Regions from separate parts of the Homo sapiens genome. Here region 2 is linked to region 1. The links come from fine-mapping of genetic effects on gene expression. A gene starts in region 1. The other region holds a variant in brackets. All regions are shown on one strand. Distances are from middle to middle. Region 1 holds the start of ARPC2 (actin related protein 2/3 complex subunit 2). Region 2 holds the start of GPBAR1 (G protein-coupled bile acid receptor 1).

What was found.
Region 2: its variant is fine-mapped to the expression of ARPC2 in whole blood (TOPMed, PIP above 0.99).

Annotation. Positions count from the first base shown.
Region 1 is chr2:218,210,297-218,226,016 of GRCh38, forward strand. It overlaps ARPC2 (actin related protein 2/3 complex subunit 2), which reads left to right and starts at 6,893. Exons shown (of 11, transcript NM_152862.3): 1 at 6,893-6,958; 2 at 7,167-7,248; 3 at 15,624-15,658. The coding sequence starts at 7,175. LOC101928487 (a long non-coding RNA gene) reads right to left here and starts at 6,890. Exons shown (of 2, transcript XR_923908.2): 1 at 6,732-6,890; 2 at 5,805-6,555. RefSeq lists an enhancer at 6,902-7,505 and silencers at 7,027-7,076, 12,524-12,573.
Region 2 is chr2:218,255,336-218,271,055 of GRCh38, forward strand. GPBAR1 (G protein-coupled bile acid receptor 1) reads left to right here and starts at 5,680. Exons shown (of 2, transcript NM_170699.3): 1 at 5,680-5,881; 2 at 7,345-8,526. The coding sequence starts at 7,390. The coding sequence ends at 8,382. AAMP (angio associated migratory cell protein) reads right to left here and starts at 14,802. Exons shown (of 11, transcript NM_001087.5): 1 at 14,631-14,802; 2 at 14,047-14,199; 3 at 12,159-12,278; 4 at 11,512-11,651; 5 at 11,108-11,252; 6 at 10,729-10,812; 7 at 10,496-10,611; 8 at 10,244-10,347; 9 at 10,036-10,126; 10 at 9,685-9,839; 11 at 8,794-9,273. The coding sequence starts at 14,751. The coding sequence ends at 9,198. It overlaps PNKD (PNKD metallo-beta-lactamase domain containing), which reads left to right and starts at 15,184. Exons shown (of 10, transcript NM_015488.5): 1 at 15,184-15,267. The coding sequence starts at 15,201. RefSeq lists enhancers at 6,127-6,932, 8,856-9,035, 13,095-13,980, 14,549-14,868, 15,019-15,398 and 1 more. The variant T/C (reference allele first, on the strand shown) is at 10,744.

The DNA.
Region 1 (15,720 bases):
AGAAAAGGCTGTTTTGTCTCTTTAAATCCCTTCCATCACTCAGGAGGCTGAGGCAGGAGGATTGCTTGAGCCCAGGAGTTTGAGTCTAGCCTGAGCAACATAGCAAGACTTCATCTTTTTTTTTTTCTTTTTGAGATAAGAGTCTCGCTCTGTCACCCAGGCTGGAGCACAGTGGCATGATCTTGGCTCACTGCACCCTCCACCTTCCAGGTTCAAGCAATTCCCCTAGCCTCAGCCTCCCGAGTAGCTGGGATTACAGGCACATAACCAAGCCTGGCTAATTTTTTTCATTTTTAGTAGAGACAGGGTTTCACCATGTTGACCAGGCTGGTCTCGAACCCCTGACATCAAGCGATCTGCCCGCCTCAGCCTCCCAAAGTGCTGGGATTATAGGTGTAAGCCACCGTGCCCGGCCAAGACCTCATCTTTAACAAAAAAAAAGAAAGAAAAAAGAAAAGAAAAAAAAAGAGCTTTTTAAATCCCCTCCACCAATAAGAAAACCATTTCAGCTGAGCCCATGGAGGCTGAAACAATAACCAACCTTAGCAGTGGCCCCTTAGCAAACTAAGGCATATCAAAATACACAAGCCTGATTTTTGGAGGACAAGGTCCCTATAGCCCACCCTCACATCGCCAAGCACATCAGGGATACAGACTGCCATCTCCACAACTGGATGCTGCTGGGAAGAATTCACCAAAATTCACCAGCCTCTTTCTTAATCAAGTACTCCCTTCAATGCTGCAAGTGCTTCACTAGAGTCTGGAGCTCCAAATAGTTGGTTCTGACAGTTCTTGCCAGCTCAATAGTGGTTTCAGTGAAGGGATCAATTCTACTCTGCTATCTTCCATGACATCACTCTTCCCCCACCCCACCACATTAGTCTTTATCCCATAGGAAACAGAAGGCACCCTCAAGATAGGATAATTTGAGAAGAATGTATTTAAGAAGGATTATTTACAAAAGTGTGGATGTAGGGGAGCCAGAAGAGGGAATGCATTAACCCAGGACTAATAGCAGCCAAGCTGATACTATCCCTAAGCCCAAAGGGTTGAGGAGAGGGATCAGGACCAGGAAGGAAGGAAAGAGTTGTGCTGAGGTGGCCACCTTGAAAGGGGCAGTGACATTTGGTTGATGAACACAGCCAGCCTGAGGCGACCTCAAAAGATGAAGGAAGCCCAAGATTAAATAGCCTGATATTACTCTTTTGCCTCCTCCTCCTACTACTACTACTTCTGTTCCCCTTCCTCCTGCTGGGGCTCCTTATTGGCCAACCAAACACCCAGGCATAAGGGAGTCCAGTTGATATAGGGGTGAAAAAGGATGAAGAGTGGATCTGGAGGACTAACTGGAGAATGGCCAGACAGCCATTCCAACCCCAAAATTACCTCTAGCCTCTATCTTCAAGATTGAATGCAGCAAATTTCTGGCTATTTAAGAACAGCCACTTTCCAAACACAACTGGAGGATTCTTCCCTGGAGAGAAGACCTCCCAATATTGACATTCGACATCTGGCACATCATCTGTGCAACTTACGGTCAACCTAGTGCTTCTCAAAACGTAATGTGCACTTGAATCACCTGGTGATATTGTTAAAATGCAGATTCTAAATCTGTAGGTTACAGTGGAACCTGGGGTTCTCCATTTCCAATGAGCTCCCAGATGATGTCAATGCTGCTGGTCCAAGGAGCTAGTCAACTCATCTTGCCCAAACACTTAGAGTCTCCACTCAGCTTTTTAGTGTCTCATCCTTAAATATGAATAGATTGCTAAAGTAGACAGAAGTTTGAGATGGCCATTAGCATGAGAGTAACCAAAATAAATTAGCATTAAAAAGGACCCAAGGAAACAGAGACAAAGTGGAGAGAAGGAAAACTAAAAACAAATTCACTAATATCCTCACAGACAGGAAAACTTATGCCTGTCCATAAAACCAGGATAGAATATTATGGAAAAGAGACAGTCAGCAGGAAAAAAAGGTCTTGGGAATTAAAAATAAGAAAACTGAGGCCGGGCGCGGTGGCTCATGCCTGTAATCCCAGCACTCTGGGAGGCCGAGGAGGGCGGATCACCTGAGGTCAGGAGTTCGAGACCAGCCTCAACATGGAGAAACCCCATCTCTACTAAAAATACAAAAATTAGCCGGGCATGGTGATGCATGCCTATAATCCCAGCTATTCGGGAGGCTGAGGCAGGAGAATTGCTTGAACCTGGGAGGCGGAGGTTGCGGTGAGCCGAGATCGCGCCATTGCACTCCAGCCTGGGCAACAGGAGCGAAACTCCATCTCAAAAAAAAAAAAAAAGAAAGAAAGAAAAAAAAGAAAACTGAAAGTTCAGCCTTGGGCAACATAGGAAGACCTCATCTCTACAAAAAATTAGCCAGATGTGGTGGCACAAGCCTGTGGTCCCAGCTACTTGGGAGGCTGAGGTGGGAGGTTCGCTTGAGCCCAGGAGGTTGAGGCTGCAGTGAGCTGAGGTTGCCCACTGCACTCTAGCCTGGGCAACAGAGCGATACCCTGTGTCAAAAACAAAACAAAACAAAACAAAAAGTTAAAATGGCTGAAGATAATGCAAGAAGATATTCCACAAAAATAGAAAAACAAAAAACAAACAATGGGTTGGTTTAGAGTTCAGTTTTGCAAGATGAAAAGAAGGTTCTTTTTTTGTGTTTTTTCTTTAAGACTCTGTCGTAAAGGCTAGAGTGCAGTGTCATGATCCTAGCTCACTGCAGCCTAAAACTCCTGGGCTCAAGCAATCTTCCCTGCTTATCCTCCCAAAGTACTGGGATTACAGGCATGAGCCACCATGCTCAGCTCTATGAATTTCTATTTTGAATCAGTGCTCAGTACAACAAATTAAGAAAGTGGTACAATAAAGCAAATCATTCTAAAATTTCTAACCAACAAGTTAAAGAGAGAATCCTAAGGCTTCCACAGATGGGGGAGATGTAACAGACAAAAGGATCAGAAACATGAATAGGAATTATACTTTTTTAATAGCAACCCTAGAAGGTGTAAGAAAATGTAGTATACCATCATTAAAAAGTCAGGAAACAACAGGTGCTAGAGAGGACGTGGAGAAATAGGAACACTTTTACGCTGTTGGTGGGACTATAAACTAGTCCAACCATTGTGGAAGTCAGTGTGGCGATTCCTCAGGGATCTAGAACTAGAAATACCACTTGACCCAGCCATCCCATTACTGGGTATATACCCAAAGGACTATAAATCATGCTGCTATAAAGACACATGCACACATGTTTATCGCGGCACTATTCACAATAGCAAAGACTTGGAACCAACCCAAATGTCCAACAATGATAGACTGGATTAAGAAAATGTGGCACATATATACCATGGAATACTATGCAGCCATAAAAAATGATGAGTTCGTGTCCTTTGTAGGGACATGGATGAAATTGGAAATCATCATTCTCAGTAAACTATCACAAGGACAAAAGAACAAACACTGCATGTTCTCACTCATAGATGGGAATTGAACAGTGAGAACACATGGACACAGGAAGGGGAACATCACACTCTGGGGACTGTTGTGGGGTGGGGGGAGGGGGGAGGGATAGCATTAGGAGATATACCTAATGCTAAATGACGAGTTAATGGGTGCAGCACACCAGCATGGCATATGTATACATATGTAACTAACCTGCACATTGTGCACATGTACCCTAAATCTTAAAGTATAATAATAATAAAAAAATAAATAAATAAAAAAGAAAATGTAGTATACCTTCAAAAAAAAAGGGAAAATTATTTTCAAACTTGAATATCTAGCCCAACAACACATCAAGTGTTAAATAGAAGTAACATATTTTCAAATATGCAAAGATTCTAACAACATATATCCCCCATCTCCCTTTCTTAGGAAGTTATTAGAGGAGATGCTTTAGCAAAACAAGGAAGTAAACCAAGAGGAAGACATGGGATCCAGGAAATGGGCAAAACCACCCCAGAACAACAATGAAGGAAAATTCCAGAATGACAACTGTACAGCAAGTCTAGCGAGCAGCCAGTCCAGATTGAAATAAGAGGAAGGAAGGCTCTGGGACAAAAACTCCAAAGAAAAAGTGGAACTTATATATTGAGTATATGGAAAACATTATTGCTAGACTTTTTGATAGTCTTAGAGCATTTGAGGGGAAAAACCAACTGTAAATACTGTTTACAGAAAATCAGACAGATGAGAGAAAAAAGGCAATAATTAACCCTAAGAAAAATGAAGGGCCATGTAAACTAGAAGTCATGATTATAGTGCATTTCTTGGCTCATCAGTAAACAATATTTGCATACATAATAATTTTAATACAGCTAGGTGCAGATTATTGGTTTTACCAAAAGTTATTACGCAGCTATATATGGTGGGAAGCAGAAGTGATAGAGTCAAGTTCTTATCTACCGTGTCAGGAAGTCAACACATAATGCTAAAAATTCACAAACCAAAAAATAATGGTATAAACATTTACTTAGAAACATGAAGGTAGGCCGGGCACGGTGACTCACACTTGTAATCCTAGCACTTTAGGAGGCTAAGGCAGGCGGATCGCTTGAGTTCAGGGGTTCGAGGCCAGCCGAAGCAACACGGTGAAACCCTGTCTCTACTAAAAATACAAAAATTAGCTGGACATATTGGTGGCCACCTGTAGTCCCAGCTAGTTGGGGTCTGAGGCCGGAGGATTGCTTGGGCCCAGGGAAATCGGGGCTTCAGTGAGCCAAGAGTGTGCCACTGCACACCAGCCTAAGTAACAAAGTGAAACCCTATCAGAAAGAAAGAAAGAAAGAAAAAGACAGAGAGAGAAAGAAAGAAAGAAAGAAAGAAAGAAAGAAAGAAAGAAAGAAAGAAAGGGATTATGAAGGTAAATATCAGGATGAATTTGTGAAAGAGTTGAGCATATTGCCTCCAAAGAGTAGGACAGGGAACTGCTTTTTTCATTACAAGCCTTTTAGTATTATAAGCATACATATTTTAAACAATTTATAAACATTATTTTAGTTCAATAGTCATTAATGTTACAAAGCTAGCTTATCGGTCGGGCATGGTGGCTCACGCCTGTAATCCCAGCACTTTAGGAGGCTAAGGCAGGTGGATCACTTGAACCCAGGAGTTTGAGACCAGCGTGCCCAATACGGCCAAACCCCGTCTCTACAAAATATACAGAAATTAGCCCAGCTTGGTGGTGCATGTCTATAGTCCCAGCTATTTGGCAGGCCGAGGCAGGAGGATCACCTGAGCTCGGGAGGCGGGCAGTGAGCAGAGATAGCAACGTCACTCCAGCTTGGGTGACAAGAGTGAGACACCATCTCAAATTAAAAAAAAAAAAAAAAAAAGGCCGGGCATGGTGGCTCACGCCTGTAATCCCAGCACTTTGGGAGGTCGAGGCAGGAGGATCATGATGTCAGGAGTTCGAGACCAGCCTGACCAACATAGTGAAACCCCGTCTCTACTAAAAATACAAAACATTAAAAGGGCATGGTGGCAGGCACCTTTAATCCCAGCTATTTGGGAGGCTGAGGCAGGAGAATCGCTTGAACCGGGGAGGCAGAGGTTGCAGTGAGCCGAGATCATGCCATTGCACTCCAGCCTGGGCAAGAGTGCAAGACTCTGTCTCAAAAAAAAAAAAATTTAAGTTAGCGTATAATTTTAGGGGATCAGCAATATCCTGAAGCTTATCCATAGCCCGTTAAGTAATGTTTCAAAGGGCTATCTGTGCCTTAATGATAGGAGCTAGTTTCTTGTTCATTTTTTTATCCCCATCCCCAAACACATAGCAGAAAATAAATTATTTCCTTGTATGTAGAACGGACTCAGCTAAGTTTATTATATTCTCCCCGGAGGAGGGAAAACACAAAACAAGGCACAAAGGCAGAAGGTGCAGATGTAGCACAACGATGAGTTAAGATTCCGCACGCAGGTAACAAGGAGGGTATGGTATATCTCTGCCAGAGGTACTGGAAGGTTTCAAAGGCAGAAAAAAATGTGTTCCGGACACCTGGACGCAGAATTGGAGGCATGACAGGAACACAGGGAGGCCCATCTAAGTTGCCTATTCACCCAGGTGACCTCTCTTTCATTTCTTTAATTGTCCTTTTAACAATATGGGGAATTTCACCCAAGGAAAGGGTCCTCTTCTCGCCCCAGCAGGCAAGGGGTGTTCCTCCAGCGCAAGTTCCGGCCCCAGCTGCCCCCACGTCCCACAGGTCTCCTGCCTTTTGGCACGCACACTCCTGACCACTCGCTGCTTCCGCATCCCTACTCTGATCCTCTCCCCATGCATCTCTGCCTCCTTAGACAACTGAGAATTTTATTGTCTGTTTCCTTTGCCAGACTGTAAGTTCCACGAGGGCAGGGCCTCGTCCATTTCATTTACCACTACATCCCCAGTATAGAGCAAGAGCCCATGAAAATGTTTGTTGGAGAAATGAATGCATGATGGTGTCGCTGGACAGCTATACCTGGAAAGAAAAAGAGGCACCCCCATCAAACAAGCTGGGAGCTAAGAAGCCCGCTGGGAGACGACAAGGGCGAGCTTCTTGCGAGGTTTCTGAAATGACAAGACCGGAAGAATGGAGTTGGATCTCTGGGACAAGCGGGAGAGAGAAGCTGAACAGTCAGGCAAGCCTCGGGGAATGACAGCTCCGCGGGGGACGCACTGGTAGGCGGTAGACGTAAGCGGGGTCGGTGGGAAAGTAGACGGTGGGGCGGCGGCATCACACATACGCAAGCGCAGCCTCCGTTTCCTCCGGCGCGCCTGCGCTCGCGTTCACGAGTGGTTGAAGCGGAAATGGCGCCGCGGGGCCGCGCGTCCAGGCGGCGAGCGGAAGTGGGTGTGAGAGCGGAAGTGGCCGGCTAGAGCCGGGGGCTGGGCGGGGACCGGGCTTGTCGGTGAAGCGGCAGTGGCGGCGGCGGCGGCGGCTCGGCAGGCGGGTTCAGGCTTCGGGGGCCAGGTCGGTTGGGTGGGTGGGTGTCTCCACAGTCTGCGTGCGTGGGCCAGCGCGTTCGTCTTACCCTTCCCTCCACCCCGGCCCCTCTCCCCTTCTCCCCTAACCTCCTACCCCACCCAGCCCCACTCAGGGGGCAGCAGGGCCGCTCCCTCCGTCCTTGCCTCCCTTACCCACCCTCACCGGCCCTTGTTTCTCCTTCCCCTGGGGGCAGCCGCCGCCATGATCCTGCTGGAGGTGAACAACCGCATCATCGAGGAGACGCTCGCGCTCAAGTTCGAGAACGCGGCCGCCGGGTGAGCGCGCGCCCGGGGCCGGGGGTGGCGGGGGAAGCAGAGTTGACCCCAGCTAATCCCCAATGTTGTCCAGTCCCCCAGACCTGGAGGAGAGAAATGGGGTGCCTGGCAGGGTGTAGGGGCTGCCCCAGCGGGGTAGACGTGGGAGGCGATTGGGCGCGGCCGGGCGAGGGGCAGAGATGCGTGGGGAGAGGCTCAGAGGAGGGATGCGGAAGCAGCGAGTGGTGAGGGCTGTGCGTGCCAAAGGGCAGGAGACCTGTGGGACGTGGGGGACCCTGGAGCCGGAACTCGCTCCGGAGTAGCCCCCTGCCCTCTGGGGCGAGAAGGGGACCCCTTCCCTGCGTGAAATTCCCCGGCATTGTTCTGAACCCAGAGAGAGCCTGTTTGGAATTGGGTTGGAAGGAGTTTTCAGGAATTCCCAGGACTGGAGGAGGGAAGGAGATGCAGGCCCACATCGCCACCAGCATTCTCGTTCCCCACCCCCATCTCCTTTAAAAGGAGCAGAAGAGAAGACTAAAAGCCGACCCAGTCTTAGAGCCGGAAAAACGCGATCTCTGGTTTCCCTTCCCCGAACCCTTCTGTGAGAGACACTGGGCCATTTTGTTACATATTTTTAAAGCAAAGCCAATTGTCCCTCGCTCCACACCCCTTCCTTATCTCTCCTTTGAGGTTCTAATGCTCTCTCCTCACCCACTAGCCTTTATCTGGTTATCTTGTAAATTCTTACATCAAGACCCTAGGTCTGTGATTTCTTCTGTGGTAGCCCTGGCCCAGTTACACACTTCAAAGACTCCAGAATCTATAAAGTTCTTAGATAACCTGTCTTTACGATTGGACTTTTTAAAAGATGGGCTTAGGGCATCTTTCCAAGGCAGCCTCTCTGCCAAACACAAGAATCAGTAGAAGACAATCTGCTCCTCCAAAGCTGCTTTGCTTTTCTAGTATAATATTTAAAACATGAGCTAAGGATTTTGGGTTCTAATTTTTGGTGGCCTGTGGCCAGTCCCTTTGCCTCATTTCCCTATGTATGAGCATGGGGCTTCACATCTGGGTTTCACAGTTAATAAGTGCAGACCGTTTCTGGTGAACTGGGAACTAGTAATAGGAAAGTGCTTGCAGATCCACAGATGGGAGAAGATTGGTAGAGGGGAATTTTTAAGTGGTCATAATGTACTTGTGGCTTGGAGGCATTAGAAAGTATTAACTGCCATTTAAATTGAATATATAGTATGTCCTGTCTCCTTTATAAGGCCACAGATTTTATCTGTAAAACAAAGCACTACTTTCCTTGAAGTAATACGTGTAGTGAGCAGTACTGTTTCCTGCCAGGGGCTGCAGTTGGTTATATTTGAGGCTGACTTGCTTCTTTCTTGTCTTAGCCTCTCTTACCAGTTTCTTTGCATTTTAAATATTCAAATGAATCAGCCCAGAGTCTTATTTTGGGTGATTGCTGTATACTTTTTTCTGAGCAGTGTAACACATAGGAGGAAGTTGAATTAACTTCTGCATTTTCATAACTGATCTTAATGCATTCTCAGGTCCAGACTAGCAAAGAATGAGACCTGGGCGGTTATAAGCTGATCTACAAGATAAATGGCTGTGTATTTTCAAGTAGAGGCATGTCTTTTAACATAGGAGTACATTCTCATCTATTTGTGTATTAATGACTTGTGATTCCAAAATGTGGCCCATTATTCGGAACTTCAGTTCTTTCTTTTTCTTTTAGAAAATTATTCTTAAAAAGAGAAGCTAACCATTTCGGAGGGATTAAATAGGCCCTCAAGTCTGGAAGACATAAGTTAGAACTTCCAGGACTTTTTTTTTTTTTTCCGAGACAGAGTCTCTCACTGGCTGGAATGCAGTGGCGCGATCTCTGCTCACTGCAACCTCGCCCTCCCAGGCTCAAGTGAGTCTCATGTCTCGGCTTCCCAAGTAGCTGGGATTACAAGCACGTGCTACCACACCTGGCTAATATTTGTATTTTTAGTAGAGATGGGGTTTCACCATGTTGGCCAGGCTGGTCTCAAACTCCTGGCCTCAAGTGACCCGCCCGCCTCGGCCTCCCAAAGTGCTGGGATTACAGCACTGCTCCTTTCCTCAGGACATTTTTTACAAAGATATGCATTGTAGGGAAGCTGTATAGGGGGTGCACTGGTGTGTATGCTTGTGCACATGTGCGGGTGTATGTGTGTATAAATCTAGGCTTTTATTCTGGCCCATCTCCCCCTTTGAGATGTGGTTTTCAATAAGCAGGCTCAAAACATTCTGCTGAAAATTTGAAACTTTGAAAATCTTTAAAAAAAAAGAGACCATGATATTGTGCCTGGTAGGCAGGGCTCTCCTGGGATTACAGATGTATCACCCAGTAGAAGCCCGAATGAAGCAAATGTAAATTATCAGACATTCCAGTAAGGTAAGGCAAGGTGCATGCCTATTCCAGAACTTACAGCAGAGTTTGCCTAGTGTGGTTATCATAAACATGTATGGGATTCTACCAGTGCTCAGCCCAGGCAGCAACAGAAAAAAAGGGGCCTCTCTGAGAGCCTATTAGCCAAGTTAGGGAGGTGCTAAGGGGTGAAAGGTGTTGGGGTGGAGATCAGAGAAAGACATTAAAGGGAGTAGTTTGGAGGAGAAACCCTGGAGATTTGAAAGGCTTTGCTGGTGTGGGAACCTGCTAGGAGAGGTCAGCTCCACCCTACTTTTTGCACTTCTCAGAATAAACCGATGGGGGAAATTACAGTTCGGAGCAGCCTTTTCCAGAGTGCATCTTCCATCTCTGTGATGTCCAATAAGATAGCCATACAAAGTGGCTGGCTAAATTTAAGTAAAAATTAAGTTGAAATAAAATTGAGTTCCTCGGTCACACTAGCCACATTTCTGGTGCTCATTTGCCACATGTGGCTGGTAGCTGTTGTATTTAGCACAGACATGGAACATTTCCATTATTGCAAAGTTCTATTAGCACTGTTCCAGCTTCTGAAAATGAAAGCATGAGATGGTCTTAAAAATAGTTCTGTGGCATATACTTCAGAATATAGTTGCATTAATTTTCCATTTGAAGTTGATTTTTTTTTTTTTTAATGATTCCTCTCAGATCATCCTGCTGGATCTTCTCACCAGTGGCCTCCTACTAAAAGTATCAGCTTTCTTTTGGGTAAAGCAGTGTTGTCATCTAAACTGTTTAAGAATACATTTGATCATAACCTTTTAATTTGGAGGCAGTTTGACAAAGCCTAAGGTTCATTCCAAACAGATTGCTTTTTAATTTTTTCCTACACACTTCTGGGAAGTGGCTTATTGAAACAACTCATAGATTGTCACAAAATAATAATTATTGGTAAATTGTCTTCCCAGCAGCCCACAAACTAAGAGAATGTGACTGACTTAAAAGCTATGCCCAACACTGCAAATAACCTCATGCACAGGTCTGATCAACAGCATTGCCTTTTCATTTGGAAATTCTTACCCAGACCCTCAAAGCAAAAGTAATCAGACAAATTAATTTAATTCTTTCGTTAGTGTACACACCAAGAACCGTTTCATAACTGAGAAGCTAGGCCTGTCAACTTAGCTGGAGTCTGGAGTCCAAAATTGAGGAAATTCTGTCAGATGCAAATTGCTGTTGGATTTAAGTGTGTGCTGGCTCCGTGCCACAGCCAGTGTATATTGCGGGGAGCTGTGGTTCCATGGGGGGGAGTGAAACTCAGTAAGCAAGCAGTGCCAGTTGGGGTGGGCGAGGATGATGGGAAGAGAAATTTGAAAAAGGAATAAATTAAATCTTGCTGATACTCTGTTCTCATTCCCAAATATATTGCATATGTCCTCAGAGAGACAGGCTGTTTGGAGTGATTTGGAATTAGGACATTGTTTAAGCATTTAGAAGAAATGGAATGTTGTGTCCAACTCAGTAAGAAGACCTGGTTGGTCTTTTTACAGGTCACTGTAGTTAATTACACACTGCCACCTGTCCTGTGGCCTACTTGGGACCACTTTGGTCCTGAAGCCCCAGAGCTGTGCTGGACCAAACTGATAACTCCTTAAGAGCTGGGTCTATCACTTTAATCATCTTTGTTTCCCCAGCATCCTCATTGTGTATATAGTCAACTCAGTAAATTGGTTTATTGAAGAAATTAATGAAGCCAGATAGAATGATTCCTTGTTTCTTTAGGAGCTGACATTTTTGTGACATTGAGTAAATCAGCTTTTAGGTCTCTGTTCTCCATATTTTGATATATGGCTTAGTGGAGAATAGGACCACCTCTTACCTAATATGATCTATTTTTTTAGGCTTTGCTCAAAAAGAATGATGGGAGCTTTATAGAAGATTTAAAGGAGAATGCTCAGAAACCTTTATAGTGAGCAGAATTCAGTAATTCCTCTAATTCAGGACATAAGAAGGGATAAGTAGGAGAGAGACATAAATGCCCAAATGGGGAATTGGGGCCAGGCACCCTGGCTCACGCCTGTAATCCCAGCACTTTGGGAGGCCAAGGAGGGCGGATCACTTGAGGTCAGGAGTTTGAGACCAGCCTGGCCAACATGACAAAACATATGTCTACTAAAAATACAAAAATTAGCCAGGTGTGGTGGCGCACACCTGTAATCCCAGCTACTCAGGAAGCTGAGGCTGGAGAATCACTTGAACCCAGGAGGCGGAGGTTGCAGTGAGCAGAGGTGGCACCACTGCACTCCAGCCTGGGTGACAGAGCGAGACCCCATCTCAAGAAAAAAGAAAAAAATGGGGAATTGGATCCTAGGGTGCATTCAGGAGTAAAAACCCCAAAGTTGTTAATGAGAAAAGAAGATGAGATAATACAGTTGCCAGAAGCCCTTTCTGGATTGATTATTGACATTCTAGAAGCTTCCTTAGAGAAAAGATAGAAGAAAATTTTTTCTAAAGGGTTTTAAGAATAGCTCTTAAAACCTGTCTGAATGAATTGATTATGTTTTAGTGTCTTGGGTTGTCCAGGCAGTAACTCTGAGGACTTACCCAGCCGGCTTGTTCTAGGATTCCAGACATTACAGCAGTCTGACACTTATAGGAGTTCTGTTTTTCCTTGTACTGCTAACCAATTCCTGATTCAGGGAATTACCGCAATCCTAAAACCTCTCCCAACCACAGCTTCAGAGTCCGATCTCTGACTCCACCTAGGAGAAGAACTAATTTATTGATTACCTTCTATGAGCTAGGCACTGTGCTATATGCCTTAACATGGTTTCATTTCATTTCTGTGACAGATAGTGGATCTCATTTACAACTGAGAAAACCAGGGCTCTTGAGGATTGGGGGTGGGGGTAGATATTGAATAAGTAACTACTACATATTAAGTAAGCACCGTGCAGGCATCCTTCACTGTGATTCTTGACCTTGTTTATCGTATGGCACACAGAACATGATTGTATTTGTATGGCACATTTGGGTAAATGGTCTAGCCTCTCAGAGATCCTGCCACCTGCTGCCTGCCCTAAGGGATATGGGGATCATTACCTCAGCATATCTATAACTTAAAAGACACCGTTTGAGAAACTTTGCTGTACAGTAGTCCCCCCTTATCTGTGGTTTTGCTTTCTGCAGTTTCAGTTACCTGCAGTGAGCAGTGAACCATGGTCTGAAAATATTAAATGGAAAATCCCAGAAATAAACAATCCATTAATTTTAAATTGTGCACCATTCTGAGTAGCATAATGAAATCTTGCGCTGTCCCGCCCAGGACATGAATCATCTTTTTGTCTAGCATATCTACAGTGTGTACGCTACCCTCTGTTAGTCGCTTAATAGCTGTCTAGGTTATCAGATTGACTGTCACAGCATTGTAGTGCTTGTGTTCAAGTTACCCTTATTTTACTTAATAATGGCTCCAAAGTACAGGAGTAATGATGCTGGCAATTTGGATATGCCAAAGAGAACCCATGAAGTGATTCCTTTAAGTAAAAAAAGTGACCTTGGTGTTTCTTTGCTACAGTTCAGTGCTATCCACACTTTTATTTATCCACTGGGTGTCTTGGAACATATCCCCCACAGATAAGGGGAGACTGCTGTACTGCTGGACATATATCATCTCAGTCTTCACACCAACCTGGGAGGTAGATGTTTTGTCCCCATTTTGTAGAAGAGGAACCTGAGGCCCGGTGACATTTGAGGAGCATTGCCTGTGGTCACATAGCCAATAAATTCTGAATTCTAAATAACTTGCTTTTTCTCACCCCCAGCATCTGAAATTTTAGCAGCTGGTAGAACAGTAAATAATGTAACTATTAATTCTGGGGGCCTATTTAGTGGAACACTTTTCCTGGGCCAGTCTTCCTCCCGCTCCTTTGTAATTTTAAACCACAGAAGTAAAATAACAAACGCCAGGTCTTGGAATTGAGAAGCAATCTTGTGATGGTATACTTCACGCTCAGCAAACTCATCGTTAAGGCACTGAGTTCTCGGACCTCTAACTCCCAGAAGACTTCCCATGAAGTCTCCTTTGGCCTAATACTCTCCTCAGCAGCCATTCTCTCTCTTCTAGCCATAAATAGTAAACTAAAATATTAATGAATGTGATTTGACAAATATTGCTAAGTCAGACAGCAGACCACTTAAGATCGATCGTAGCAACTTTTCCCACAAGGATCTGTGCTCAGGATACTTTATGCCTAGAGAAATTTGAAATTAGAGACTCAAAGTGTGTATGACTTGGAGCCCAAAGGTTATTTATTTATAGTTGGTTTTTCTCAGGTCTTTTGACAAAGTAGGAGAGTGAGGAACTCAGCCCTTCTTTGGCTGAATTAAAACCTAAAGGTTAAAAAAAAACTTACTAAGTGATGTAATAATGGGCTTTTATAAACTCCCTGACTCTTCAGCACAGTCAGCCTTCCCCAGGAAAGTATGCTTCCATGCTTCCTCCCATTGGTCATCCTCTTAATATTTCATTCAGTTGGTCCATGATTAACATTTCCATATTTTTGTTCTTTGCTCTTGTTTTCTAGAGGTGAGGAATGGTATTGGACTCGTTGCCTTTGTTTCCTGGCTACAGTTTCAAAATGAAGGCTCAGAAGCAATTTAAATTTTCATCTAGTTTTTTCCTTCTATTCTGAACTCTCTGCTTCTCCGTAAACCCACTTGATACTTCAATTCGTAGAGATACCCAGTGCGCTTTTCCTAAGTCACATATAGGGCTTTGAAGAAGCAAGGTGAAGCTTTGTATGATTCGTATAGGTTGATTTTTCAGCAGGGCTAGCATGCTTCATAGAAGCCAGTTTTTTTGAAAGGTATTGTCTGGCTTCTATATCAGCTTTTTAACACTCATAAACCATGTTATATATTCCATTATTTCCCAGCATCCCTGGAGAGCAACTTAGTCTTCGTTTCTTTCGCAGGTAATGGAGCAGAGATCGTGGAAAGATACGTACTTGATTAAGAGGTCTTGAGCAAGTTAGACAAAAATAAATGTGAAAACATGCGCATCTTGTTTGCTAGCCCCTAAAACAAAGTGGAATCATTGAGTTTACAGGTAGCTAGCTGGTAAGGCAATAGTCTTCATTTGCTTCCTACTTTGGACTTCAGGTCTGTTCTTGTGTTATATGTAGTAGTTCCATGAGGTAAATAGGTTCATTTTTATTCCCCCATTTTATTGATGATAGGGGAGAATGCAAAGGTGTAAGGGTATTTGTCCCAAAACATGAGCGTGATGAGAAAGCTAAAGTTGTAAAGCAGATGTCCTGACTATTCTTAGTGATTTCATAGTGTTATTTTGTGTTACACTGTCTATTTTAAGTTCCGAGCTGGAATTTACAAAGCAAGACAAAACTAGGGTAGAACTAAAGAGGGTTTCTTGAAGGTGAGTGGTAAGTACTTTGGTGATGTAAAGGAAGAAAGAAAGATGAGTAGGAAGGCTTACAGACGGGTTTTGAAGTGGAATAGAACTTGCCGTTTTGTTTATGGCCCGAAATCATCCTTTCTCTTTAAGCATATTAAAACCATTCTACATTATACTTAGCCATTTTCCTGCTGAACGTTTTACTCCTAATACCACTGTCCTGTGGGGAAGGCATTGACCAAAAGATGGCATTTTGTGGTATATAGCATGTTGTTAGGAAATTCAGAATTGAAAGTGAGCACCAACCAAAGCAGTAGATTCAACAGCAGGTGAAAAACAAAAGCTATAGCTGGCCTTCCTTTTTTATCTGACCTTCCTTTTTTATCCTCTACTTAAAGCAAGTCCAAAGGTTCAGGTCCATGAGAAAATGAATTGTGTACTCTGATTGGCAGTAACCTAAAATTTATACAGAATGGTCTGATCTTAAGTGAAGCTCAGGTGCCTTTCCAGTTCCCTTTGAAGGTAAGCAGCAATACAGTCATCTTAACTGAGGACCTTTTTTGTTGTTTACAGAAACAAACCGGAAGCAGTAGAAGTAACATTTGCAGGTAAGCATCTTTATCTCAGCCCTCTGAAGAGAAGGTACAATATGAAAAATAGGAAATAGGCT
Region 2 (15,720 bases), 45 kb after region 1:
TTAAATACGGTTGTAAGAAACAATACAGAGAGATCCTGTATACCTTCCACTTGGTTCCCCCACCATGCTAACATCTTGTATAATTGTTGTATAACATCACAGCCAAGAAAAAATCATTAGTATAGTCCACACACCTTCAGATTTGGCCGGATTTACGTGCACTGTATGAGATGTACATCTGTGCATTTTTATCATACGTGTAGCTTTGTGTGACGCCAGCATTTTTAAGCAATTGAATAGTATCAGAGTGCATTACATCTGTTAAGGGTAAGTGTTGATGTGGAAACGTATTTTAGTTACATATGCACATCATGACTGGATTGTAGAAATGTCTCTTGACTGTGAGTCACAGTGGAGAATTTTGAAAACCACAGGTCGTTCAGTCATCAGACTTGATTTTATTTCACTAAAATGGGCTGCTAGAGAGCTCAAGGTACTCTGATTTCTAATTGGCTGCTCAGGGTGCCCCTGACCACTTACTTCTGGTACTTGGAAAACCTAGATTAATTGGATATATTGACAGCAACATATGCATTCTCTACCCCATGAGTTATTTAAGGGGTTTTCAAGTGTAATTTTGACTAGAAGCAGTTTTTGCTCTTTTTTTGTTTTAATTTTAGTTTTTAGAGACAGGGTCTCACTGTGTTGCCGAGGCTGTACTCAAGCTCCTGACCTCCGGAGTAGCTGGAACTACAGGCACCTGCCACTATGTCCAGCTGAGTTTTTGCTTTCTTCCTTAGTAGAACATAACTAATGTTGGAGCTCACTGTACTCTTTTGCCAGTAGTAGGAATCCGATTTCTGGTAAGTACTGTAGGTGACAGAACCAAGGTTGCTTAGAAGATATGGAGTTAGGAGAAAAATGAAAAGGCATAAATATTTTCTACAGCAGTAAATCCTAAGGAAGTAACTAGTTCCAAGACACTGTCAACATTAAAAATCCATAGTGCAGGCTGAGCACAGTGGCTCACACCTGTAATCGTAGCACTTTGTGAGGATGAGGAAGGAGGATTGCTTGATCCCGGGAGTTTGAGACCAGCCTGGGTAACGGTGAGACTCCTTCTCCATCTCTATAAAAATAAATCTGGCTGGGCACGGTGGCTCACGCCTGTAATCCCAGCACTTTGGGAGGCCAATGCGGGTGGATCACCTGAGGTCAGGAGTTTGAGACCAGCCTGGCCAACATGGTGAAACCCCATCTCTACTAAAAAAAAATTAGCTGGGCATGGTGGCGGGTGCCTGTAATCCCAGCTACTCGGGAGGCGGAGGCAGGAGAATCACTTGAACCCAGGAGGCGGAGGTTGCAGTGAGCCAAGATACGCCATTGCACTCCAGCCTGGACAACAAGAGCGAAACTCTGTCTCAAAAATAAATAAATGTGTAGTGCAGCCTGGACAACATGGCAAGACCCTGCCTCTACAAAAAATAAAAATCGGCTGGATGTGGTGGTGCATGCCTGTGGTCCCAGCTACTCAAGAGGCTGAGGCAGGAGGATTGCTTGAGCCCTGAAGGTCAAGGCTGCAATGAGCTGTGTCGTGCCACTCCACTCCAGCCTGGGCAACAGAGTGAGACCCTGTCCCAGAAAAAAGAAAAATCCATACTGGTGTAAACCCGTATCCAGATTGACTCTTCTCTTAACAAGGACACACTTGGCGTTAGTATGGATCTAGCCTCAAAGACCCTCGTCACAGATGAAGCAGCCCATCGTGACCAGTCGAGGCCTTAGGACCGCAGGAGGAATGTCTCAGGATGAGGGTCAAGCACACTGAGGGTGTGGGCTGGAAAAAAGGGATCTAGTTGTTTCTTCCTAGTCTCAGGAAGCCAGTGCCCCAAGGGTTCACACCTGGTAAGTGTAGGCGTCCTTGGATATGGGCTGTAGAGGAACAGTTTGAATCCAGGTGCCGCCATCTAATAGCTATGTGACAGCAAATTTCTTAATCTGAGCCCTGGTAGCCTCATTTAAATTGGACATAATGCCACCTACCTGAGGATTTGTAAAAGGAAAAGAGAATAAATGTCTGTTACATCATAAGCATTATGATGCCTGTAATTATAATGTCAATGAATCTTAGTTCCCTTTATACACTCAAGGGGATCAGAAGTGACAGGCTGTTGCCCCAGCAAAGTCCCACAGAAGCCAACCCTTATTCGGTGCTTGGGGTTTCCCAGGCTTTCCCCAAGGTAGTTGGTATTTTGGTATTTTCCCCTGCTTAAATGGCCCTTACTGCCGAGGCCAGGCAGGTAAGAATCTCCATGTCTGGAAAAAGTGGAACCTGGGGCAAACTGCAAGCTAAGGATAAGGAGCTTGGCAGGAAAGACGCTAAGACTCTAACAGGAAGTGGAAGGGTGGACTTGGAGGGGGAATTGAAATCAAGAAAAGGAAATAGCCCTAGCTGCTGCCTCAGCCTCCTTGAGGGGAGCTGATACTTGGAGTTGGTTGCCGTTAGGTTACCCTCATTTGGAGTAGTACTGATGAGTGCTCGACCGAAACCTGGGTCTACTCTGGTGGCGATTTTGAGTTCAAGCAGTGCTGCCCCCTACTGGGGGTTGCTAAAAGCACTGCCATTTCAGTGGGCGGGGGGTGTTGGTTCTTTTTGGTTTTTGGTTGGTTGGTTGGTTGGTTGGTTGGTTGGTTGGTTTTGAGACAGAGTCTCACTCTTCGCCCAGGCTGGAGTGCAGTGGTGCGATCTTGGCTCACTGCAACCTCCGCTTCCCGGGTTCAAGCAATTCTCCTGCCTCAGCCTCCGGAGTACCTGGGACCACAGGCCTGCACCGCCACACCCAGCTAATTTTGTATTTTTAGTAGAGGCAGGGTTTTTCCATATTGGCCAGGCTGGTCTCGAACTCCTGACAGGTGATCCACCCACCTTGGCCTCCCAAAGTGCTGGGAAAACAGGCGTGAGCCACTGTGCCCAGCCCACCCTAACCTTTTTTTTTTTTTTTTTTAACAGATGAGCGAATTAAAAGGTTAGGCGATTTTTTTTTTTTATTATTGGAGACTTGCTCTGTTGTGCAGTGGCGCAATCTCGGCTCACTGCAACCTCCCCCTCCTGGATTCAAGCGATTCTCCTGCCTCAGCCTCCTGAGCAGCTAGGATTACAGGTGCTCACCACCACACCTGGCTAATTTTTGTATTTTTAGTAGAGATGGGGTTTCACCATGTTGGCCAGACTGCTCTCAAACTCCTGACTTCAGGTGATCTGTCCACCTCGGCCTCCCAAAGTGCTGGGATTACAAGGATGAACCACCGCGCCTGGCTCTGATTTTTTTTAATCATCTTTATTTTGAGGCAGGGTCTCACTCTGTCGCCCAGGCTGCAGTGCAGTGGCGCCATGAAGGCTCACGGCAGCCTCAACCTCCTGGACTCGAGCAATCTTCACACCTCAGCCTCCTGAGTAGCTGGAACCACACAACATGTACCACTGTGCCCAGCTAATCTTTATTTTTTGTAGAGACGGAGTCTCACCACGTTGCCCAGGCCTCAGCCTCTTAAAGTGCTAGGATTACAGGCATTGAGTGTGAAGTGTTGAACAGCGGCTCAGGGAGGCCAACCAGGGTCCAGCAAACCCCGTCCCTGCTGCCTCCATTGGTCCAGAGCTGGTACCCGCAGCCAGCATGACACTCACCCAGTCCCAGACATTGTGGGTCAACAGAGAGAAATTCAGATAGCTAAGAGAATGGAAGCGGACAAAGGAGGCACAGGAGGATTCCATGCCAGAGTCTGAATTGGTCACCCCCATTCAGGCTCTGCCTGAGGAAAGGAGAATGGGGTCCGGGCACAGTCAGCTGGATGGAGCGTCTGAAGACGGCTTGCACCAGAGCCCTCCGTGGCTGAAGGGAGAAGCTAGGGGGTGAGTCAGCCCCAGGGCTTGATGGAACAGACAGGAACTAGATGATCTAGGAAGGGAGAAATGAGGCTGAGCAGGAGACAGCCCAGGCTCCCTGGCTGCCACTACCTAATCTGTCCCCCTTCACACACATCCCACACACAGTGTTTAGACAGAGCAGCAGAGAAGAAACAGACATCCTGGATCCCACAGGGAGCAGGCTGGGGCTGGGAACAGGAGGTCTGTTTATTCCTGGAAGTCACATATCAGAAGGGTCCCACACCCACTTCTGTCCAGGCCCCAGGCTGAACTCTCCCAGAGCCTGTGACTTCTGCCCGACCAGATCCCGTGGTTCTGAGGACCGGCCCTGGAACCCTGCGTCCTTCCGACCCACCAGCTCCCTCGAGGATGGACTTGAGGCTGGATGCTTTCCTCTTCCCACTTTTTGTCCCAACAGAAGTCCCTGATCTCCAGGATCCCTGACTGGCTGTGCAGAGCTGGCACAGCCACACTCCACGGGCTTCCAGCCCTTCAGGCCCAGCTCTCCCGGAGAGCACCAGAGTCCCTTTGCTCCATTTACTTGCGCTCTTCAGCCAGCAAGTGTTTCCTAATGTCTCACCCCCAGTCCCAGCTTTCCTGCTGCAATTTCCGCCTGTTCCCTCCCATTTCAGGCCTTAAGGGAGTGTGGCTGGGCTTCTCTCCTCCCCCTCACTCCAAAGCCGCACTTGATACAAGGTGGAAATCAAAGCACCACTTCTGGCTTCCCAGCCTTGAACTTGCCCTTCCCTCTCAATGTATCTGGTTTCCTCAGCTTCCCTGTGCAGCAAGAGTGTCACTCCCCTCTTGCTTTTCCCAAGCTCCCCATGCGCCCCTCTCAGCAGATCTGTCTTAGAGGGGCCAGGTGCAGAGAAAGGCAGAAATCCTAATAATGTTCCCAGCGATCGCTGCCTGTCGCGGAGTGCTGAAGGGCCAAGTGTTGATCTGAGTCCTCATCACACGGGACTTCATTTAGTCTCACGATAGGTGAGTACAACTATGGGCCCCATTTGACAGATGAGGAAACTAAGGCAAGGGAACTTTAGTCATTTGCCCAAGTTCACTGGCTTTTTTAAAAAAGGATCCAGACAGCTCTGATTCCAGCGCCAGCTCATGCCTCTTCATCATGGGGGAGGAAAGAGAGGGAGCCATTTGTTGGGGCAAACCCCCACCCATCAAGGGCCATGCACTGGGGTATATGCCGCCATATGTGTTATCCTGTGATATTCCCCACCACGACCTTAATTAGAGGTGGTTTTTCTTGTTCCCATTTTAACACAGGCAAAAACCGAGGCCCAGTAGTACCTTACCCATGGTCACATCCCCAGAGCCATTTGTCCCTCATAGTTCAGAACTTGACTCAGAAAGCAGTTGAGAAAAGTGTGGAATGACCCCAGATTCAGGAAGGCAAGTCTGGCCTTAGAAACTGAAAGGCCCATCAGGTGATGGGATGGGGGAGTGAAGATCCTCAGGCCCCAAACACCTGCCACTGCCACCATCACACACGGAAGTGTGGAGGGAGCCTGGTGTGCTGTCAGCTGGCTGGCCAGTCCAGGGGCTTAAATGTAAATGCATCAGCTGAGGCGGGAAGTCGGGAGGGGTAAGTCAATCATTATTATTCATTAACTGGAATGCATTTCTCAGATTACTCCGAGCTGGAGTAGGGAAACTGCCACCTAGGTGGCAGGGGGAGAGGGGAACTGGGTGGGAGGGGGAGGCAGGCCTCCCAGTTGCTGCAGTTTGGAATATGTCAGGTCCCACCCTCCCAGAGGCGGGGCCAGGGCTGAGTCCTGCCAGCCTCATTTCTCTATCCCTCTGAGAACCCAGACGGGCAGAGCCTGGGTAGGAGAGCCTGGCCCCGCTGTCCCCACTGGGTGGAGACACCATGCACTTGGTCCACTTGTGCTCTTCAGCCAGGACACCAGACATGGTCCAAACCGCTGCAGGGCTGGCTGCAGCAACTCCCTGACACTCAGGAAGGCCCAGGCTGGGCAGGCAATACCTGCTCCCAACAGCCATGTGAGTAGCTACTCCCCCAAACCCCCAAACCCCAGATCCTGGAGAGGCTACTACACCCAGCCCAAGCCACCAGACCCTCGGGGGTGTGCAGGTGGTACAGCCTGCACCCTGCTGGGAAATCACCCCTGGGGGCTGCTCCCTGCCTTTGTCGCTGTTCTAGTGGAGGTGGGTTGGGGGGAATCATTCCGATTAGGGCTGGGAGCTCCAGCTCAGGCCAGGTTTGGGGTAATGGACCCTGAGTCTCACGGGACTTAAGAGAGTTGATGATGCCCTGGGAAAGGGAACAGAAACTGCAAGGCCTCTAGAGAGGAAAAGACATCCTGGGTGGAGGGCACTGGAAGAGATTGAGAAAGAGAAAACATGCTTAGGGGAGGGGAAAGGGGGCATAAGGCCTTGGAGGCCCAGGCTCAGGGTGCTGGGGGAACCTGGGAAGGAAGGGGAGCATCTTCCTTCCTCTCAGCTCAGGGCAGCCATGGGGCCCTGATCCCCTGTCCTGGAGGAGGGGAGAGGTATGAATCCTTTCCTTATTGACTTGGATCCTAGCAACAGCAGCTGCTCCCCTGTTGACAGAAGCAGGAGTTCCCACAGGACCCAGGACCCCTCCCCCTGTCCCCAGGATGTGGCAGCAGAGCCATGACACTGGAGGACTGAGACCAGGGAATGACGGGAAGGACAGGGACAGATGAGAGCCACAGAGAAGCCAGACTCTGCCCAGACTCCTCTTCCCTCTCCTCTGGGCTCAGCCTCAGGCCTGGGGGTGTGGGGGAGTCCCTCTCCTTGCTGCTGGCATCTCCACGTTCACTGCCACACGTGCCCTCCAGCTGCTTCTCTCCTCCCTCCAGCTCCCAGGAAGGACCCTGTTGCTAGTGTGGAGCAAAGACGAGTCAAGTTTATGGGCTGGAAGTCCTACCCGGAGGCTGCTCACTGAGCTGTGATGGCTACAAGGACAGATGGGGGGAAGGGTGCAGGGTGCCCGAGACCTGGCCCGCTGGAGCCTGTCACCTAATGGCTGGCTGGAAGACCACTACACACCAGCCAGCCCTGGTCCATTCTCTCATTTAGAGGCCTCCCCGGTGGAGGCAGGGATACACAAAATGCTTTGGGGCTGGATGGGCCCGCCTTTCAGTCTAAACAAGAGACCTCAACACAGCTGCCCAGAAAAGGCAGATACCAGAAATGGATAAAGCTGGCTGGGTGGGGACTGTCCGAAGGGCAGCCAGCAGTGAGCTCCGGCTGGTTGCTACCACACAGGACATATGTGTTGCCAGACCTGAATTTTCAATAGAAACCAAAGATAGTTTTTTATATAAATGTTTAATTGGCAATTAATTGAAAAATTCTGTGTATCAGCGAACATGATACAGCCCACAGCCTGCGGGTCTGCGCCCCTGGATTAACATGCTGCCCTGCCAGGAGGACACGACCTGCAGCCCCATCCTAACTCTGGCCACCCCATCCTGCAGGCATGCCGGCTGCCGCTCCAGGACTCCCCTGTCCCCAGGACCAAGATGACGCCCAACAGCACTGGCGAGGTGCCCAGCCCCATTCCCAAGGGGGCTTTGGGGCTCTCCCTGGCCCTGGCAAGCCTCATCATCACCGCGAACCTGCTCCTAGCCCTGGGCATCGCCTGGGACCGCCGCCTGCGCAGCCCACCTGCTGGCTGCTTCTTCCTGAGCCTACTGCTGGCTGGGCTGCTCACGGGTCTGGCATTGCCCACATTGCCAGGGCTGTGGAACCAGAGTCGCCGGGGTTACTGGTCCTGCCTCCTCGTCTACTTGGCTCCCAACTTCTCCTTCCTCTCCCTGCTTGCCAACCTCTTGCTGGTGCACGGGGAGCGCTACATGGCAGTCCTGAGGCCACTCCAGCCCCCTGGGAGCATTCGGCTGGCCCTGCTCCTCACCTGGGCTGGTCCCCTGCTCTTTGCCAGTCTGCCCGCTCTGGGGTGGAACCACTGGACCCCTGGTGCCAACTGCAGCTCCCAGGCTATCTTCCCAGCCCCCTACCTGTACCTCGAAGTCTATGGGCTCCTGCTGCCCGCCGTGGGTGCTGCTGCCTTCCTCTCTGTCCGCGTGCTGGCCACTGCCCACCGCCAGCTGCAGGACATCTGCCGGCTGGAGCGGGCAGTGTGCCGCGATGAGCCCTCCGCCCTGGCCCGGGCCCTTACCTGGAGGCAGGCAAGGGCACAGGCTGGAGCCATGCTGCTCTTCGGGCTGTGCTGGGGGCCCTACGTGGCCACACTGCTCCTCTCAGTCCTGGCCTATGAGCAGCGCCCGCCACTGGGGCCTGGGACACTGTTGTCCCTCCTCTCCCTAGGAAGTGCCAGTGCAGCGGCAGTGCCCGTAGCCATGGGGCTGGGCGATCAGCGCTACACAGCCCCCTGGAGGGCAGCCGCCCAAAGGTGCCTGCAGGGGCTGTGGGGAAGAGCCTCCCGGGACAGTCCCGGCCCCAGCATTGCCTACCACCCAAGCAGCCAAAGCAGTGTCGACCTGGACTTGAACTAAAGGAAGGGCCTCTGCTGACTCCTACCAGAGCATCCGTCCAGCTCAGCCATCCAGCCTGTCTCTACCGGGCCCCACTTCTCTGGATCAGAGACCCTGCCTCTGTTTGACCCCGCACTGACTGAATAAAGCTCCTCTGGCCGTTTATGATTATCTCATTCCATATCTCAGGGCGAGGCAGGAGGAAATGGCTCAACACACCAACAATAGAAAGAACCTACAGACATACGCGTGGATTAAGGCAGAGTCCGACTCCAGGCAGGCAAGAAGTGTCGTGCGCACAGACCACCCCTGGAGATGGGGAGCTGGCACATCTCAACATCCAGCCGATTCTGCGGGACAGCCTTGCCCTGACGGGGCCCTCGCTAGCTCCTCCTAGGGTCCAGCCATCACAAAATCCACACAGACTCTGTCTCTGGGAAGTATATTTTATTTACATTTTTAAAATCTTTAACTAGTATCTCTTCCTCCTTTCCACCCCCAGAGACTTGGGAAGGGAAAGAACGGGAACCTCAAACACCTACTCCCCACATACAAATACACACCCCATGGCTCACACCAGCAAATGAAAGTGAAAGAGAAACAGGTCCACCCCTCCCTCTGAAGGGCCCACCAGGTCTGGACAAGGGTGGGAGGGCCCTGGGCTGGGTCTCTAAAGAGAAGAAAAGGAGAGGGGAGCAAGTCAGTTGAAGAGGCTGGAAAGTCATCCAGGGCCCCACCCTCCTCTTCCCTCTGTGCCCTACTGCCTCTGCTGGCAGACAGGGGCAGGGGTCCCTTCGTCCCCTCAACACCAGACACACAGGCAGGGGCTGCAGCCATTAACGGTCAGGCCTTTGGACACAAAATACTTTCGCTTTGTGGTCTCCTGACGTGGTCACCACCAGGGAGGCATCTCTGTAAACAGAAAGCATGTGATTGCAGAGACTGGGGGACCCAAGCCCACCACCTAGGGGCCCTAGGGTGGGCTCCTCCAGCACACCCTCAGTTCTAGGGCCCTAGTGCCTAGCACTGGGCCGACATCTCTGCAGCCAGCATGGAGGGGATTAGAGGAAGCCCCCAGCACGGGAGAAGCAGAGCTGACTCCGATGGGGAAAATCAGTCTCAGCCTCTCCCTCATGACTGAGACGTGGGGCCCCGGAGGGTCACTGTCAGCCACTGGAATGGGGGCTGGGCTGTGAACCCTCAGGCTTCTCTGCATTCCTGCCTTAGGAATCCCTTCCCACACCCCAAGGATCCTGTGTCCCCTACATACTACTGCCACCTTCCAAATACACAAAGATCCCAGCCCTTGGCCAATTCACTTACTTGCTGAGGGCAAAGTCCAGGATCTCAGCCGTGTGGCCCCGGTAGTCAGTAAGCAGGCGGCCGGTCCGGGCGTCCCAGAGGCGCACGATGCCATCCAGGCTGCAGGTATATACCACGGCAGTGCCTGCCTCCCACAGCAGCTGCACGATGCCCGACTGCCCCGAGGAATGACAGAGGCAGGGCGGAGGTTGGCAGGAGAGCTGAGAGCCATCTGCTCCCAATTCTCAAAGAGGGACAGCCACACACAAGGGCCAGGCAGGAGCCAGATCTGGGGTAGATGCTCCTGGAGGCCTGGGCTTCCCCACCACTATGGACACAGCCCACAGGGACCCCAGCTCCAGCTGCCCATACCTGGTGCTGACACTGATGCCTAAGAGTCTGCGTAGCCAGGTCATAGATGGCCAAGGTCCCATCCAGGTAGCCAACAGCTGCCAGGGGCATCCTGGCCAGAGGAGCGTACCATGAAGACTCATGAGGGCCTGGACTCACACGCCCTGCCGTCCTCCCGGGCCCCCAGCCCAGGCCCCTCCCACAAACCCCTTTCCCCATCCTCACTCACACACTGCAGAAGCCCAAGGACTCCACCGAGTTGGACTCACTCTCCTCCCCTTCTCCCAGGCTGGGCTGGGAGGCCACAGTCTCAGGTCTAAAAACACCCACCACCTGAAAGCCAGAGAGGATCAGAGGAGGACACGGAATCCGGGTGCTTGATGGAGAGAAAGACGGTGGGGAGAGGAGACAGTGAAGACCCAGGAAGGAAGGAGAGGAGTCGGGAAAGCGGAGGCCCCAGCCGGGCTCCAGGTCCACTCACCTTGCCGGTGGTGGCACTGACCAGCTTGGCCTGGCAGTCCACAGAGCCAGTTAGGATCAAGCTGCCATCCTGGTTGGCAGCAACACAGGTGAGTGGGCCCTGGTGACCCTCAGTCCCTAGCATAGAGCAGGGAGGCAGCTCAGGCTTCGTCCTACCTCCCCTCTGAGTCCTGCCCCAGGTTCTCAGCCCCTCCCTACAAAGGCCCAGGCTAACACTTCCCCCACCTCTGATACCTTTCAGTACATGGA[T/C]AGGGCTTCCCTGCTTCAGGTCCCAAATCCTGATGGTCCCATCTTCATAGCCTACCACAGCTCTCTTCCCTGAAGAGAGGCACAGATGAAGAGAGGGCAGAGGGCACGCTCACATACACTAAGCAAGGGAATGGGGAGAGGGAGAGGAAAGAAGAGTGGAAGGGCCCAGACACTGCCCCAGGAATCACAGGTGAGTTCAGAGCAGGAAGGAGGCGCTGTGAACTTTGGGGCCCAGGAGGTCAGCACTGCAAACAGCAGGCCTCAGATTTTGCCGGCTGTGACCCAGAAGGCTGCTCTGGGAGGTGTATATCCCGGGATTCGGCCTCTGCACCCAGGAAAGGTCACTCAAGGGAGGTGCTCTCACCATCAGGGAGGACTCGGCCACAGGTGGCTGGGCAGTTGGGACCCTGGAAGGTCTTGCAGTCACCATTCGGGACTTTCCACATCCAGGTGTTGCCGTCAGCTGTGCCCGCCAACAGGACAGGTGCCCGAGGATGCCACTCCATCCACTGGACAGGGAGGAAGGGGCAGCAGGGAGGCCCGTCACCCCATCCCACCTAGAAGCCTGCCCCATGAGCTCCACCCAAGGTTTCCTGCCTCTGGGGTTCCGCGGGGACTTTCCAGGTAGCAGGTAGATATTCTTCCTGTGCCTTGGGGCGCATTGGCTCAGAGCTGGCTTGGCGCAATAAAGGCAGAACTGGCCTCCCAAGCTTGCACCCCCAACAACCCAAGGCCCCACAGAGCTGACTCCCGCTCTGATGATCTTACCTCCAGGTCTCCCGCTTCAAAGGACCAGACCTCCTCCTTAGTGTCCACCTGCCACACTTTCAAGAGGCCACTCATGTCCCCTGTGGCCACTAGAGTGGAGTCATGGCTGAAACCAGCACAAGTCACAGAGTCTTTATGGCCTTCAAAGAAAAGTGGGCAGAAAACAGAGGAAAAAAATAGGGTACCTGGTGCTGGGGGCATGTGATTCTGGTATCTGGCCCACTGAAAGGACCAGCTAGGAAAAAAAGAGGGGCGGGACTGAGCAGAACAGGTGCTGGAACTCACCACCACTCTAGGAACCAATACTCCCATGTCTGCTGGGAGACACTGCTGGCCCTCACTCAACCAGACCAAGTCCCAGCCTCCTATGCCTTCCCCCTTCTGTCCACTCTACACCTCTGCCCGCCTGCTCCTATACCAATGTGGCCTTCTCTGGCCTTTCCTGGATTCCCTTGGCCAATTAGTGCCTCCTGCCTCTGTGCCCAAAACACACTAGTATTCGCCCCGTGTCCCTGGGGCCCAGCACAGAGCTGGCACAAAAGAGATGTCACTAAGTGGCTGTTGGATGCACAACCTCTGCAGGTCAGCCTCCTAAGATCTCCCAAAAGAATATGACCTCTCCCAGGCCTCTACCCCAGCCCCCTCACCTGCACACTCAAAGAGCAGCTCCCCATCGCTGAGCCGCCATACGAAGGCTTTGTCATCTTCACCCCCGGTCACTGCCAAGGTATTGGTCTTGGGGTCCAGGCTCACACAAAACACAGATGCTGTCCCAAGAGATATTCCATGGGTAAGGGGACAGAGCTCCCACCTAGGGCTCTGTCCTTCACAATCTTCAGGAAACCCACCCCCTTTCACCCAAAGCGTGTCTTTCCTCCTGGAAAACACAGGTACATCCAAGTTCTTCTAAGTTTCAAGAATTGGGTTGTTAGATCCTTCCCATATTTGCCAAGCTCCCTATTTGCCAGAGTAGATCCCCTCACTGTGTGACTCCCGTCACCACCCAACACCAATGCCATGGACAAGAGGTGGGGACAGGTGCAGGGCTTACAGTTGTCAGCATGGGATGCCACCGGGGTTGGGTACAGAGCGAGGAGAGCATCACGTTAAGGGTTTTTTGTTTTTTGTTTTTTGTTTTTTGAGACAGAGTCTTGCTCTGTCGCCCAGGCTGGAGTGCAGTGGCACAATCTCAGCTCACTGCAACCTCCACCTCCCAGGTTCAAGCAATTCTCCTGCCTCAGCCCCCTGAGTAGCTGGGATTACAGGCGCCCGCCACCACAACCAGCTAATTTTTGTATTTTTAGTAGAGATGGGGTTTCATCATGTTGGTCAGGCTGGTCTCGAACTCCTAACCTTCTGATCCACCCGCCTCGGCCTCCCAAAGTGCTGGGATTACAGGCATGAGCCACCGTGCCTGGCAACAGTTTCTTACTAAGAACTAGCACTTGAGAAAGTTATATAAAATATGCTCAAAAAGATATAATTATCTCTCATTTTATTTTATTTTTTTGAGATGGAATCTTGCTCTGTCGCCCAGGCCGAAGCGCAGTGGCACAATCTCAGCTCAATGCAACCTCTGCCTCCCAGGTTCAAGTGATTCTCCTTCCTCAGCCTCCGGAGTAGCTGGGATTACAGGCACATGCCACCACACCCAGCTAATTTTTTTTTTATTTTTAGTAGAGATGAGGTTTCACCATGTCGGCCAGGCTGGTCTTGAACTCCCGACCTCAGGTGATCCACCCGCCTTGGCCTTCCAAAGTGCTGTGATTACAGGCATGAGCCACCGCACCTGGCCAATTATCTCTAATTTTATACTCACTACTTTTATTAACTTTTATCAAAGATAACTTTTTTTTTTTTTTTTTTTTTGGAGACAGACTCTCATTCTGTTGCCCAGGCTGGAGTGCAATGGCGCAGTCTTGGTCCACTGCAACCTCCGCCTCCCGGGTTCAAGCAATTCTCCTGCCTCAACCTCCCGAGGAGCTGGGACTACAGGCGCCCGCTACCACGCCCAGCTAATTTTTGTATTTTTAGTAGAGACGGGGTTTCACCATATTGGCCAGGCTGGTCTGGAACTCCCGACCTTGTGATCCGCCTGCCTGGGCCTCCTAAAGTGCTGGGATTACAGGCGTGAGCCACCATGCCCAGCCAAATTTTTGTATTTTTAGTAGAGACTGGGTTTTGCCATGTTGGCCAGGCTGGTCTCGAACTCCTGACCTCAAGTGATCCACCTGCCTCAGCCTCCTAAAGTGCTGGGATTTCAGGAGTGAGCCACCACGCCCGGCCAAAGATAACTTTTTAAAAGAAAACTAAGAGGTTAATCAAGGTTAACTGGCAAAGTAGAGGGTGTCTCGACTGATGCCAGAAGCCAAGCAATCATCCATTCTGCCACACTTTCCCACCTGTGGGCTCCTCCAGCGCAAGGCCAGCATCTTGCCCATCTCTGTGTCCCCCATAACGTTCTGTCCATGGCTGATGTTTAATGCTTACACGCCCACCTAAACTGATTTGAGGTGGATCGCCTCAAAGACCTACCTGAGTGCAATGCAAAGGTGACCTCGCTATCGTCGGGGCCCTCCATGCTGCCGACCACCCCTTCCTGGGGTTCTAGAACCCAGCCCTCTTCGTTGCCCTCTTCCTCCTCTTCTTCCTCAAAGTCCACATCTTCCATCTCCTGGGCCAGGTCATCTGCTTTGGGGAGAGGGTTAGAAGATGGGGCTCGGGAGGCGGTAAGAGGTACGGAGAGAAGCATGAGGAGGCCTGAGGCTGGGGCGGGTCATGTGGCGAGAAGGGAAGGTGGAGTCAGACACACCGGGGTCCGCGGGGGCGCGCGGGACACAGGACGGGAGGCCACGGCTGGCCAGAGACCGTGCGGTAAGGGAGGGCCAAGGGGATGATGGGAAGGGGGTGTGTGAGGGGAAGGGCCAGAGGAGGCGTCAGGGAACCCCCACCCCAGCCAGGCCTGAGAACTAAGTGTGAGGGTGGGAGTGGGGGAGGAGGGGAAGAGGGATATCGGTAGGAATGACCAGTCGGGTGTGGAGGGGAGCGGGGAAAAGCAGGAGTCAGAGGCCAGGGGTGAGCGTCTCCTGTCCCATGGCCTGAGGAGCGGCAGTTCTCACCTGGGTCCGGCGGACCGGGATCAAGTTCTACCACCTCGATAATCTCTTCATCACCATGGAAGCTTAGGGTCTCCAGTGGGGGGGTGTCAGCAGCAGCCCCGCTTTCCGATTCGGACTCCATGCGGCGCAAGCGGCGGATCCACTTCTCTGGGCCCAAACGCCTCCCAGAGTCAGCTCTGCGCGACGACGCGGAACTCGAGCCCCTCCTCCCGGCAGGAAGTAGGCGTAGGCGACTCCCCAGCAGGAAGAGCGACGGCCGTTCGGCCAATAGCTACGAAGGTTGGCTGGCCGCCTCACCAATCACAGAGCGGCATTGGAAGATGGGGCCGGGGCGTGGCGGAGAGAACCCAAACTCCGCCCCACCTGACTCCGCCCCCAACTGGAGGGAAACAAGCGAGCGCGCGCGCCTCCGGGGTCTCCTGGGAAGAGTAGTTCTCCTGGGTCCGCTCTGCGGGCTTCTGGGAGATGTAGTTTCTGGTCTGTAGGCAGGACGGAAGGAGCGGGGGAGGCCCCTTACGCAAACTACAATTCCCGGCGGGGAGCGCGGTGAAGCGGGGGTGGGATCTGAACATGGCGGCGGTGGTAGCTGCTACGGCGCTGAAGGGCCGGGGGGCGAGAAATGCCCGCGTCCTCCGGGGTAAGGAGAGGGACCCCGGGGAGGGCAGGACTGCAGAAGATCCCTTTTCTTTCACGTCCAGCCCGACGATAGCAGGAGGTCAGGGCTCTTGGTTCCTCCCCACACTTTTCTGCAAGATCTTAGAGTCTGGGGGTGCAGAGATGCTCTTTAGAGGTCACCCAGTGCATCCCCCCGCCTTCGGGTTGCTCGACACCTCCGGGGTCTTGCTGCAAGAGGGAGCTCCTAGGAAGCCTGTTGGACTCCCGCGCTCCAGGTGTTTCACACTCACCGCAGTGCAGAGGAAAGAGCCCCGGGCTTCTGGAGGTTTGAGTTCCAGCCCCGGATAATTAGCAGTTTGACCTTGGGCAAAGCAGTTTTTCTCTCAGGGCTTCAGTTTCCTCTTCCGTACAGTGCAAGGGATGGAGTAGACTATCTTTAAGGTCCCTTCCAGTGCTAACATTTGCAGTTTCAAAA